Homo sapiens: one gene and its partners. The protein of the gene in region 1 purifies or fractionates together with the protein of each later gene. This does not show direct contact. Each region holds a gene or a part of one and is shown in the gene's direction. Other genes may lie near its edges.

Region 1 (3,657 bases):
TTTAGTCATTATCTAGTCCTAGAGGGACAGTTTTAACATTAAGTGAGTAGGCAGTCTAGACAGAATAACTTGGCTTTTGAAGTCTGACTCCACCTACTAGCTTGTAACCTTATTTTTGAGCAGGGTAGAGAACCTCTCTAGCCTTTAGCTTTTTCGTCTGTAAAATGGAGACAATGTACTGATCTCATAGTGCTGTTGTGAGGATTAAATGGGTTAATACAGGTAAAGCATTTAACAGTAAGCACTCAATTAATTTTGGTGTCATCCCCATTTTACAAGTGTGAAGCTCTGAGAATTCTTAAAACCCACCCAAATGTACACACTATCATGCTTCTGTCATGCAAACAATTTGAATAAATCTCCTAAAAGATATTATAAGATACCAAAGCACAACACAGTTTGTTGCTCTTAAGGACATGAATGTTGGAAAAATTAAGAAATGTAAGGGTGAAAGTTGGTAGTACAAATGTAAGGCAGTATGTGATTACCAAATAAAGTGATAGGGGATAACTGTGTAGTCCAAAAACCTTAGTTCAGATGCAGATGTTTTCTCTGACTCCTTTTTCACCAGTGACAAATTACTTAACTCCTCTGAGCCTTCTTTAGTTATATGTAAAGTGAAGATGTCATCACAGGATTTATGTGAGCTGAAATAAAGTTATATGCCAGTACTCAGAGAAGTGTATTTTATATAGAACATTCTAGAAGATGTTTATTGGTACAATTTAAGAATTCAGGAGAGAGAAAGATCTAGGACATTTGTGTGAGATCCTGATAAAATATTTCATATAGAAGGAAGTCGAAGCTATTGGTTACAATTAGATTTTAAAATTTTAGCCCTGAATTTCACTTATACTAGTCCACCACCAAATTCTTATAACTCAGAAAGTTGACTGAATGTTCGTCTGGATATGCTTAAACTAAGAGAGGCAAAAGAAAAGATCACATTTTGATTTCCATTATTCTTACATGGTAAAACATGAGACTAAATTCCTGCTAGATTCCAGGATTTTTGTCCTCTTAAAATTTTATTTTTGCCAGGTAGGAAGTCTGATACATAAGACACTTTCAGAAATTGGCAAGAGTTTTTCTTGACAAAAAACTTAATCCCCAAATGGATCTAGGATATTGTTTCTTTCCATGTTTTTAGTTGAGAATATTATTTTACAGTTTACTTATTGCAGTGGACTTCTAAGTGAATTCAGTTGTACAACTTTCAAATATTTTAAAGTATTGATATATATGAATAGCTACCACATAGAAAATATAAATATTCTAGAAAAAATGTCAGTAAGCAGAACTCAGTAACTGTAGTTTCTGAATAAACTGTACATTTATTGAGTTATTGATATGTTCTGGATTTTCAGAGAGGGGTACAATCTGTTTTAATGCTTTGCATTGCAATTTCATAATAATTGGGAAATAGTTTGTAGATTTTTTTTTTTAAGAGAAAAGCATTTTTATTGTTTTCAGGAACACTGTAGTAATTTGAATCAATTGGTGGCTTACAGCTTCAAAAAAGGCCATTCTTCATCTACTGTAATGAACGGATAAGTATGATAATCCAAATTATGTATTGAATAGTATATAATTTGCAGCATCTATCTGCACAATAGCAATTTAAACAGTCCTTTTTCTTCCTAATTTTTTGCTACATTATTTTAAAATTTATATCTAATAAAAAATACAAAGTTCTGTCTCTTTTTGTCTTACTTAAAATGGTTTAAAAAGTAGCTTTTAAAATTGTCATTATACATCTGGAGTATTATCCAACATATTCTTTTTAAGATAATTTCAGTCTTTTGTGTTTCTGACTTAATTGAAATTTAGTGACAAGTACAAATTATACATTCAAAACAATTATTTCTATAGCACCAACTGAAGTGTTACAAAAATGATTTCCAAATTTCAGCTAGTAGCCAAATTATTTCAGATATTACAGTTGAAGAAAGAATACTGATTCAGGGTTTGAATCTTAATTTAATAATGATGTGACCTTGGATATATAGCTTAATCTTTCCGAACCTCAATTTCCTCATCTATAAAATGGAGTTTGATTTATTCAACAAATTTTTACTGAATATACATTTTTCTGTCCCAGACAATATTCTAAGAACTGGGAATTCAGTGGATAGTAAGACAGAGTCCTTGTCCTCATGGAGCTTACCTTCTAGGGGAAACATGAAGTATCTATCTGGTATATGACACAATAATTCCATTTCTGTCATTACCTCTTCCTTTCCTGAGCCTCAGCTTTCTCATTTGTAATCTTCGCAGGCTTATCGTGAGGATATTTTATTATCTTAAGTGCTGTAAGCATGTCATGTATTATTTCTATAGGAAAAAACTTGAATAGTACCTTGGAGTTGATAGTATGTTTGTCTCTTCTGTCATTTGTTAAAGTAATTATTTGAGCATAAGATAATTGCTTTAAATTAGGAGTAATATTAATTTGGATTCAACTACTCATTCCATGCTTAGTTAACATTTAGTTCTTCTGCCTTGCTGACTTCATCCCTTACATTGCCTGTGTATATAGCTGTCTCTCTCCTACATTTAAAATACCTTAGCGGTCAGGAACTATTTTAATCTTAATTATCTTTTTTACTCCCATGATGCCTAACAGTATTTTACATATATTTGTGACATCTATGGGCCTGGATTTTCTGGAATGATAGCTGTTTATTTAATTTTACTCTCTTCAATAAAGATAATTTGTTAAATAAATAACTAAATGAAAATATTATAGCCATAAGGCCTTCTATATTAATATATTCACAAATGAAGCTTTTCTATAATCAGCCCAAGTGTTCCAAAAAAAAAATATATATATATATAGGGATTGTCTCTGTAGCAAAAATTTGGAAAGCGTATAAATGTCCATTAGTGGAAACTGATTAAATTCATTGCATTCATAAATTATGCACCTATTAAAAATGATGACATGGACCTGTGTTTATTGCTATAAGGTGATATCTCTAATATGTCAACAATTGAAGAAAATTAAGCTAAAAACAGGTAGATTATTATATTTTTTTAATTTAATAATGTCTAAAAAGCTAGACAGCTAGCTAACTAGAGTAACCAAAAGGCTATAGTGATTTTTTGGGGGGGATTTGGGGGAGGGTTGGAAGGGGATTTATAAGTGATTTTTACTTTGTTATTTTATTTATTTATTTATTTTTGAGACAGTGTCTCGTTCTGTCGCCCAGGCTGGAGTGCAGTGGCACAATCTCAGCTCACCGCAACCTCCGCCTCCTGGGTTCAAGCGATTATCTTGCCTCAGCCTCCGAGTAGCTAGGACTACAGGCGTGTGTCACGACACCAGCTTATTTTTGTGTTTTTAGTAGAGACGGGGTTTCACCATGTTGACCAGGCTGGTTTCAAACTCCTGACCTCAAGTGATCCACCTGCCTCAGCCTCCCAAAGTGCTGGGATTACAAGCATGAGCCACCACGCCTGGCCTGTTATGTTTTTTAATGAGCTGAACATACATGTTTGTATAATCACACAAATAAAAGCTATTTGTATTTTGTGAAAAAGAAAAAATCTATTTGTTTTTCAAATCATGTGTTCTGATATTCAATTCAGCTAATGGTGGACATTATATAGGAGTGCAACAGAAACTTAAGAATAAAAATAGATCTCAGTTCTTCC
Region 2 (3,657 bases), on another chromosome or scaffold:
TGGGCTACCGAGTGAGACCCCATCTCAAAAGAAAAACAGAAAAACAAACAAACAAACAAAAAAAAACAGAAAATGTGGGAAGTTAAGTTGAAAAATAAACACCTTCAAAGCTATTAACTTGGATTTTCTTTTCTTTTCTTCTTCTTTTTTTTTTTTTTTTTTTTGAGTCAGGTTCTCACTCTGTCGCCCATTCATACTCTGTCCAGTTCATTGAAAATACAAGTCTGATTCCCTTGAGTTGTGATATTCATACACACACGAGTATATATACACTTATGTGTGCATATGTATATTATATAAAGTTTTACGTGATATATAATATAAGTTTTTACTTTCTGTAAAATAAAATTTGTTAGGGCCGTATAATAGTTTTGAATATTCATATTATTGTGTTCCACATTATAAGCTCTAATTACATCGTGTTGCACTCAGATTGACATTCTGCTGTTGACACTGAAAATAACGCTTTCATTCATAGATGAATGTAATTTTCAAGCTTTTTTTCTATATTTCTTAACTTGCTTGAATGTTCCCATTTTTGCCATTTCTTGTTGTTCATTTTAACATTTTGGGGCTTGTGTTTCAGATCAGGAAGAATCACCATTATAGGGTGCAAAGAGTTTGCTCAGAGGTGAAAATGATACGAAATTGTCCCTAGAGCACATCCTATTGCTATACTATTCAACATGTATGAATTAATCTACTGGGAAAGTGTCTTGTGTAGTGTGTACTTTAAAGATGTTTTCAATCACTTTGCTTTGGATTAGAAAAATTCAAGGTAACTATAATTTTAAATGCTCATATTTTTATGTTTATTTTATATGTAGGAAGAGAAATTTTTAAAAATTGGAATAACACTATATCCCATTCTTTTCATTTATTACATTATAAACATGTTTCCAAGTGATCAAATATTTTTAAAAATGTTTAAAATCACTGCAGTATATTTTATATAATGGCTGTTTCATAATTTATTTCACTAATTCCAAGTTGTTGAACATTTGTTTCCATATCTTACAGATAATGCTTCAGTAAGCATTCTTGATCGAACATCATTTTGCACTCTATCATTTTTTAGAAGTCACCAAGAATGTTTTAAAGATGAATTCCTTTGATAGTCCCTGAAATTTAAACATTGGCTTAAACAAAAAGATAGCCTTGATTTCAGTGGCATTTAAAAAAAGAAGGCTGGGCATGGTGGCTCAGGCCTGTAATCCCAATACTTTGGAAGGCCAAGGCAGGCAGATCACTTGAGGTCAGGAGTTCAAGACCAGCCTGGCCAACATGGCAAAACTCCGTCTCTACTAAAAATACAAAAAAACTAGCTGAGCATGGTGGCGCACGCCTGTAATCCCAGCTACTTGGGAGGCTAAGGCAGGAGAATCGCTTGAACCCAGGAGGTGAAGGTTGCAGTGAGCCAAGATTGCACCACTGCACTCCAGCCCGGGCAACAGAGCACGACTCCGTTTCAAAAAAAAAAAAAAAAAAAGAAGAAGAAAAAAGAAAAGGCCATTCTTTATATAGTGTATTGTATCATATGTGACTCTAAACTGGAACTTGTTTAGGTAAAGTATATGTCTTGGAAGTATTTTGGTTTTCTCTGATCTAGTTAGCAGGTGCAGAGCAGGATGAGGTAGGATTCTGTGCTGTGTACAATCATAGGAAGTTCTGTTTTTTGAAACGGAACTGTTAATGGGGGAAGGGAGACACGTTTGTTTTTAAGAAGCCTTTATGTTTAATATTATTATAAAACTCAGTTCAAGTATACAAAGCTTATTTGTGCCTATGAACATTCAGTATCCTAAAGAAACATTTAATCCTGGTGTTGGCTAAATGACTATTTGCTGATATGCCCTTTTATCTCAAGGCTATTAGTTTCTTAAAGTACTTTGATATCACTCAATAAACTACAGTTAAACTCAGAGTTTTACATTTCATTCAGGTTGCTTAAATAATATAACTAAACATAGGTCCAATAATAGTAAAAATTCTGATGCTGTCACTTAATTTGTGCCTGGTTTCAGTATATGGCGATTGCTTAAATTACAAGCACTTGAATTTACAAATATTTTGTGTATTTAAATGGCTCATTGTACATTACATATCCCTCCTGAAACTTAACCCATGCCATTTCACAGACCCTTCCATGGTGTTTTTCTCTTTCCTCCAGTTCACTAGCCTCACTCACCAAAGACTTTATTGGTCTGGGAATTCTATTATGACCCAGAAGTGACTTGGAAGGTTCCTTTCACCCAACAACACATTCTCACTACCTTTCTTTTCTTTTCAGGGGCATCATTTACATGCTATGTTGCACAGTCAGAATGGATTTTAGCATAAAGTATGGGTTCCAATAGCTCTCGCATTTTATTATTTATTTATTTGTTTAGAGACAGAGCCTCACCTTGTCGCCCAGGCTGGAGTACAGTGGCACAATCTCGGCTCACTGCAACCTCCATCCCCCAGGTTCAAGCGATTCTCCTGCCTCAGCCTTGTGAGTAGCTGGGATTATAGGCTCCTGCCACTGTGCCCGGCTAATTTTTGTATTTTTAGTAGAGATGGGGTTTCACCGTCTTGGCCAGGCTGGTCTTGAACTCTTGACCTCGTGATCCACCTGCGTTGGCCTCCCAAAGTGCTGGGATTACAGGCATGAGCCACCGCGCCTGGGCCAGCTCTCCCATTTTATATCTCTGTGGCATTGAGGAGGTTTCTTAACTCTCTGAACCTCAGTTACCCCATGAATAAAATGAAGATAATACACTCACTTTTCACTTTGTTCTCATAATTATTATATGAGAACACTTATAAAGCAACTAGCATATGGTAGGTGCTCAATAAGTATTTTCATTTACAGGTTGATTAATGTTGCCTTAGATGATTTTTGTCAGGCATCTATATCTACCTCTTTTTCTCTAATTTGAGTACCTTCCTACCTTCCTTTTTTTTTTTTTTTTTTTGGACAGAGTCTTGCTTTGTCGCCCAGGCTGGAGTGCAACTGTGCGATCTCAGCTCACTGCAACCTTGACTTCCCGGGGCTCAAGCGATCTCCGTGCCTCAGCCTCCCGAGTAGCTGGGATTACAGGCGTGTACTACCATGCCTGGCTAACTTTTTTTTGTAGTTTGTTTTTTAGTAGAGATGGGATTTCCCCATGTTGCCCAGGCTGGCAAGATTTTAGAAATTAGTGGGGTTTTTTGTGTTTTATTTAATGGTATTGGAAAAACACTCCTTTTATTGTTTTTCATTGTGAATGTGAAGGATTCTAGCCATGTTTCAGGTTGAAGAAGCTTCTTCGCTTAGCTCAGAAACCTGTTTATCGTTTAATTTATTCTTTTTTTTTTTTTTTTTTTGAAACGGAGTCTCACTGTGTCGTCCAGGCTGGAGTGCAGTGGCGCGATCTCAGCTCACTGCAACCTCCGCCTCCGGGTTCATGCGATTCTCCTGCCTCAGCCTCCCGAGTAGCAGGGACTACAGGTGCCCACCACCATGCCCTGCTAATTTTTTGTATTTTTAGTAGAGACGGGGTTTCACTGTGTTAGCCAGGATGGTCTTGATCTCCTAACCTCATGACCACCCACCTCGGCCTCCCAAAGTGTTGGGATTACAGGCGTGAGCCACTGAACCCTGCCATTTAATTTATTCTTTTGTGAGGATATGTG
Region 3 (3,657 bases), on another chromosome or scaffold:
CACTGGTTAGAACTTAGTTGCATGATCCGATGCTAGAAAATCTAGCCTTTATTCTGAAAGAGTATGTGCACAGCAACAGAAAACAAACCTAGAACAAATATTGAGGATGACCTGCTGTTTGAAGAAAAAGCAAGAAATTAAATTTAGCTCATAGTTTACTTCCTATGTAAAATATAAATAATCTTATTGTCAGATATCTTTGTTTTAGAAAGTGACTGCTAATGTTGGGCTAGTACTAGAGAGAATTTTCTGTTATGTACATTTTATTTAGATTTGACAAGCTTTGGGTCAGTAATTTCGTTACGGGTAGGCACTAATTTTTCAAAGCTTTGGGATAAGTAGGGGCAGCAAGAGAAACTAGAAGTTGTTTTATGGTCCCCTTAGATTTCTTCATCTCTGATTGTTAGTTATTAATGGCCATATTTTAATTAACTGTGGAAGCAGGTAAAAATGACTTTATCATGTGTTTCCTTCTTTAAAACGGCTTTACTTACAGTGACCCTTTGTAGAATACATTAATGTTGTCTTTCTCTATATTATTTTTTTTTTTATTATTGAGACAGAGCCTCGCTCTGTCGCCCAGGCTGGAGTGCAGTGGCGTGATCTTGGCTCACTGCAAGCTCCGCCTGCCGGGTTCACGCCATTCTCCTGCCTCAGCCTCCCGAGTAGCTGGGACTACAGGCGCCTGCCACCACGCCCGGCTAATTTTTTTTTTTTTTTGTATTTTTAGTAGAGACGGGGTTTCACCGTGTTAGCCAGGATGGTCTCGATCTCCTGACCTCGTGATCTGCCCGCCTCGGCCTCCCAAAGTGCTGGGATTATAGGCTTGAGCCACCACGCCCAGCCATCTTTCTCTATATTATTAATTGTAATTTTAGAATATCTCCAGTAGACATACAGGTTTATGATATTGAAGAACAGAGTAGATTATTTGGGTTTATAATCGAACAAATTATACTGAGAGAATAAAATCCTTTTTGCTAGAGCATTATTCTCTGTAAAGAAGCACCAGGAATTCTTGTTAAAAATCCAGGTTTCCAGTTTCACTTTCAGAGAATTTTTATTTTATTTGAAATGGAAATGAAAAATCAACAGATAAGCCTTTTAAGGTCGTCCTTAACTGAAGGAAGATCTATGCTAGAAGAGTATAGTTGAAACAAAAACCTAAACTAAACTCGTATGAATTAATTTTAAATTGAAACAGACAAATATTCAAGAATGGAGAGTTGAAAGATGATCAAAATGACTAGCTTTATAATCTAAGATAATTATACAATTTATAATTATCTAAGGAACTGTTAGATGACTCTTTGCTTTTAAGGCGAGATTAGTCTTTTTTAACAGTGTTATTACTAGAAAAAAGTTGCTGAGCATGGTGGCTCACACCGGTAATCCCAGCACTTTGGGAGGTTGAGGGAGGCAGGCAGGTCACCTGGGGTCAGGAGTTCAAGAGCGGCCCGGCCAACTTGATATAAAAATATAAAACATATTTATAAAAATAAAAAATATATTTATAAAAATATAAAAATTAGGCATAGTGGTGCGTGCCTGTAGTCTCAACTACTCAGAAGGCTGAGGCAGGAGAATTGCTTAAACCCGGGAGGCAGAGGTGGCAGTCAGCCAAGATGGCACCACTGCATTCTAGCCTGGGCGACAGAGCAAGACTCCGTCTCAAAACAAACAAAAATAAAAAACAGTGTTATTACTAGAAAAAAGTTAATCCAGGAGGTAGCAAAGTCTGATTTACAGCCTTGTTTTTAAAGAGATAATTAGAAGCTATAACTTATGTCTTGTTGCAGTCTGGTTAGAATTTTCAGACTCTTCAGACTACTTTGTGCTTAGTGGCACCCATATTCTTTGAACCTGTACTTTTTGTGGATGAAATACTGTGTCAGAATATTTGGGAGTATGATTAGTGTCTATTCATTTTTTATTACAGGTGGCTTTCCTGGGGGAATGCCTGGTAATTTTCCCGGAGGAATGCCTGGAATGGGAGGGGGCATGCCTGGAATGGCTGGAATGCCTGGACTCAATGAAATTCTTAGTGATCCAGAGGTTCTTGCAGCCATGCAGGTAAGACTTGGAAGAAAAACTTTGGACTTTGTATCATTAAGGCAATTCTTTCATAATTCTGTGTGGAGACAAAGGTTACTCTCATAGCTATTTTTTATTTATCACAGTTACCAAATAGCTAATTATGCAAGAGTGACATTTATTTTCTTTATGCAGAGTGAGTAACTTAAATTTTTAAAACTAGGAAATACTTAGCAATCGGCAATTATATCCAGTTGTCCTTTTCTTTGTATCAAAATTGTGCTTTTTTCATCATACAGTTCAAATGACTTAATTCAGCTTGATTTTGATACTTCAAGCACTCATCTAAACCCCATTTAACTTAACTATCACCAAATTACAGGTCTAAATAAGAGATGGAATTTAGGATAATAAACTTACTGACCCAGTAGGACACTTTTTAAATACTAATGAACCCTTTCTTTTCAGGATCCAGAAGTTATGGTGGCTTTCCAGGATGTGGCTCAGAACCCAGCAAATATGTCAAAATACCAGAGCAACCCAAAGGTTATGAATCTCATCAGTAAATTGTCAGCCAAATTTGGAGGTCAAGCGTAATGTCCTTCTGATAAATAAAGCCCTTGCTGAAGGAAAAGCAACCTAGATCACCTTATGGATGTCGCAATAATACAAACCAGTGTACCTCTGACCTTCTCATCAAGAGAGCTGGGGTGCTTTGAAGATAATCCCTACCCCTCTCCCCCAAATGCAGCTGAAGCATTTTACAGTGGTTTGCCATTAGGGTATTCATTCAGATAATGTTTTCCTACTAGGAATTACAAACTTTAAACACTTTTTAAATCTTCAAAATATTTAAAACAAATTTAAAGGGCCTGTTAATTCTTATATTTTTCTTTACTAATCATTTTGGATTTTTTTCTTTGAATTATTGGCAGGGAATATACTTATGTATGGAAGATTACTGCTCTGAGTGAAATAAAAGTTATTAGTGCGAGGCAAACATAACTCATTTGAGGATAAAGTTTGTGTTGGATATGTGGTTCCTGATGCATTTTGACTTGTCTTTTTAAATGCTTTATCTTTTTCTTTAAAGATTTATTTCAATAAAACTAATTGGGACCACCCGTATTTCAGTAGGACCTGGGTAGGGATTGGAAGTACTTGGCAGGGCAGCAGCAATCTTGCTGTGTTTGATATAACATGCATCCTTGGGCAGGTTGCCCTTAAATCTTACACTGTGGTGAAGGGATGTTTTTTTTGTAATGCTGCAGTAGAGTTGGAGTACTTAGTTCTCTTGTTGTCCAGTATATCTAATAAGTGTTTTTCATATTATTTCCACGTAAGGGAAATAAGGTAGTACTTTTCTTTTTATATTTCTATGCTTAAAATTCTCTTTCCTAGTCAAAAATTGCCCAAATCTGTGTTTGCTTTCTGCTTGCTACATTTGTCTCCCTTACTTTTCTTGAGCTAAAGACAGGCTTTTTCCACCGGCATCATCACTGCTATCATCATTAACAGCGTAATTATACAAGCATATTTAATGCTGAGTTTAATTTAATATGTAATACATATGGTAATTGTAGGGTAATACCCACAACAACTGTAGTTTCTTACTTGGCCAAG

Evidence for each region.
Region 2: the proteins of DNAJB14 (region 1) and PLS3 purify together in Homo sapiens (affinity purification with mass spectrometry, with the first as the bait; one large-scale study listed by BioGRID). This does not show direct contact.
Region 3: the proteins of DNAJB14 (region 1) and ST13 purify together in Homo sapiens (affinity purification with mass spectrometry, with the first as the bait; one large-scale study listed by BioGRID). This does not show direct contact.

Annotation. Positions count from the first base shown.
Region 1 is NC_000004.12:99,940,119-99,943,775, reverse strand, and holds part of DNAJB14 (dnaJ homolog subfamily B member 14), read left to right. Parts: intron 1-3,657. UniProt on the Homo sapiens protein: Acts as a co-chaperone with HSPA8/Hsc70; required to promote protein folding and trafficking, prevent aggregation of client proteins, and promote unfolded proteins to endoplasmic reticulum-associated degradation (ERAD) pathway.
Region 2 is NC_000023.11:115,567,566-115,571,222, forward strand, and holds part of PLS3 (plastin-3), read left to right. Parts: intron 1-3,657. UniProt on the Homo sapiens protein: Actin-bundling protein.
Region 3 is NC_000022.11:40,825,512-40,829,168, reverse strand, and holds part of ST13 (hsc70-interacting protein), read left to right. Parts: intron 1-1,939; coding exon 1,940-2,073; intron 2,074-2,502; coding exon 2,503-2,631; 3' UTR 2,632-3,657. UniProt on the Homo sapiens protein: One HIP oligomer binds the ATPase domains of at least two HSC70 molecules dependent on activation of the HSC70 ATPase by HSP40. Stabilizes the ADP state of HSC70 that has a high affinity for substrate protein.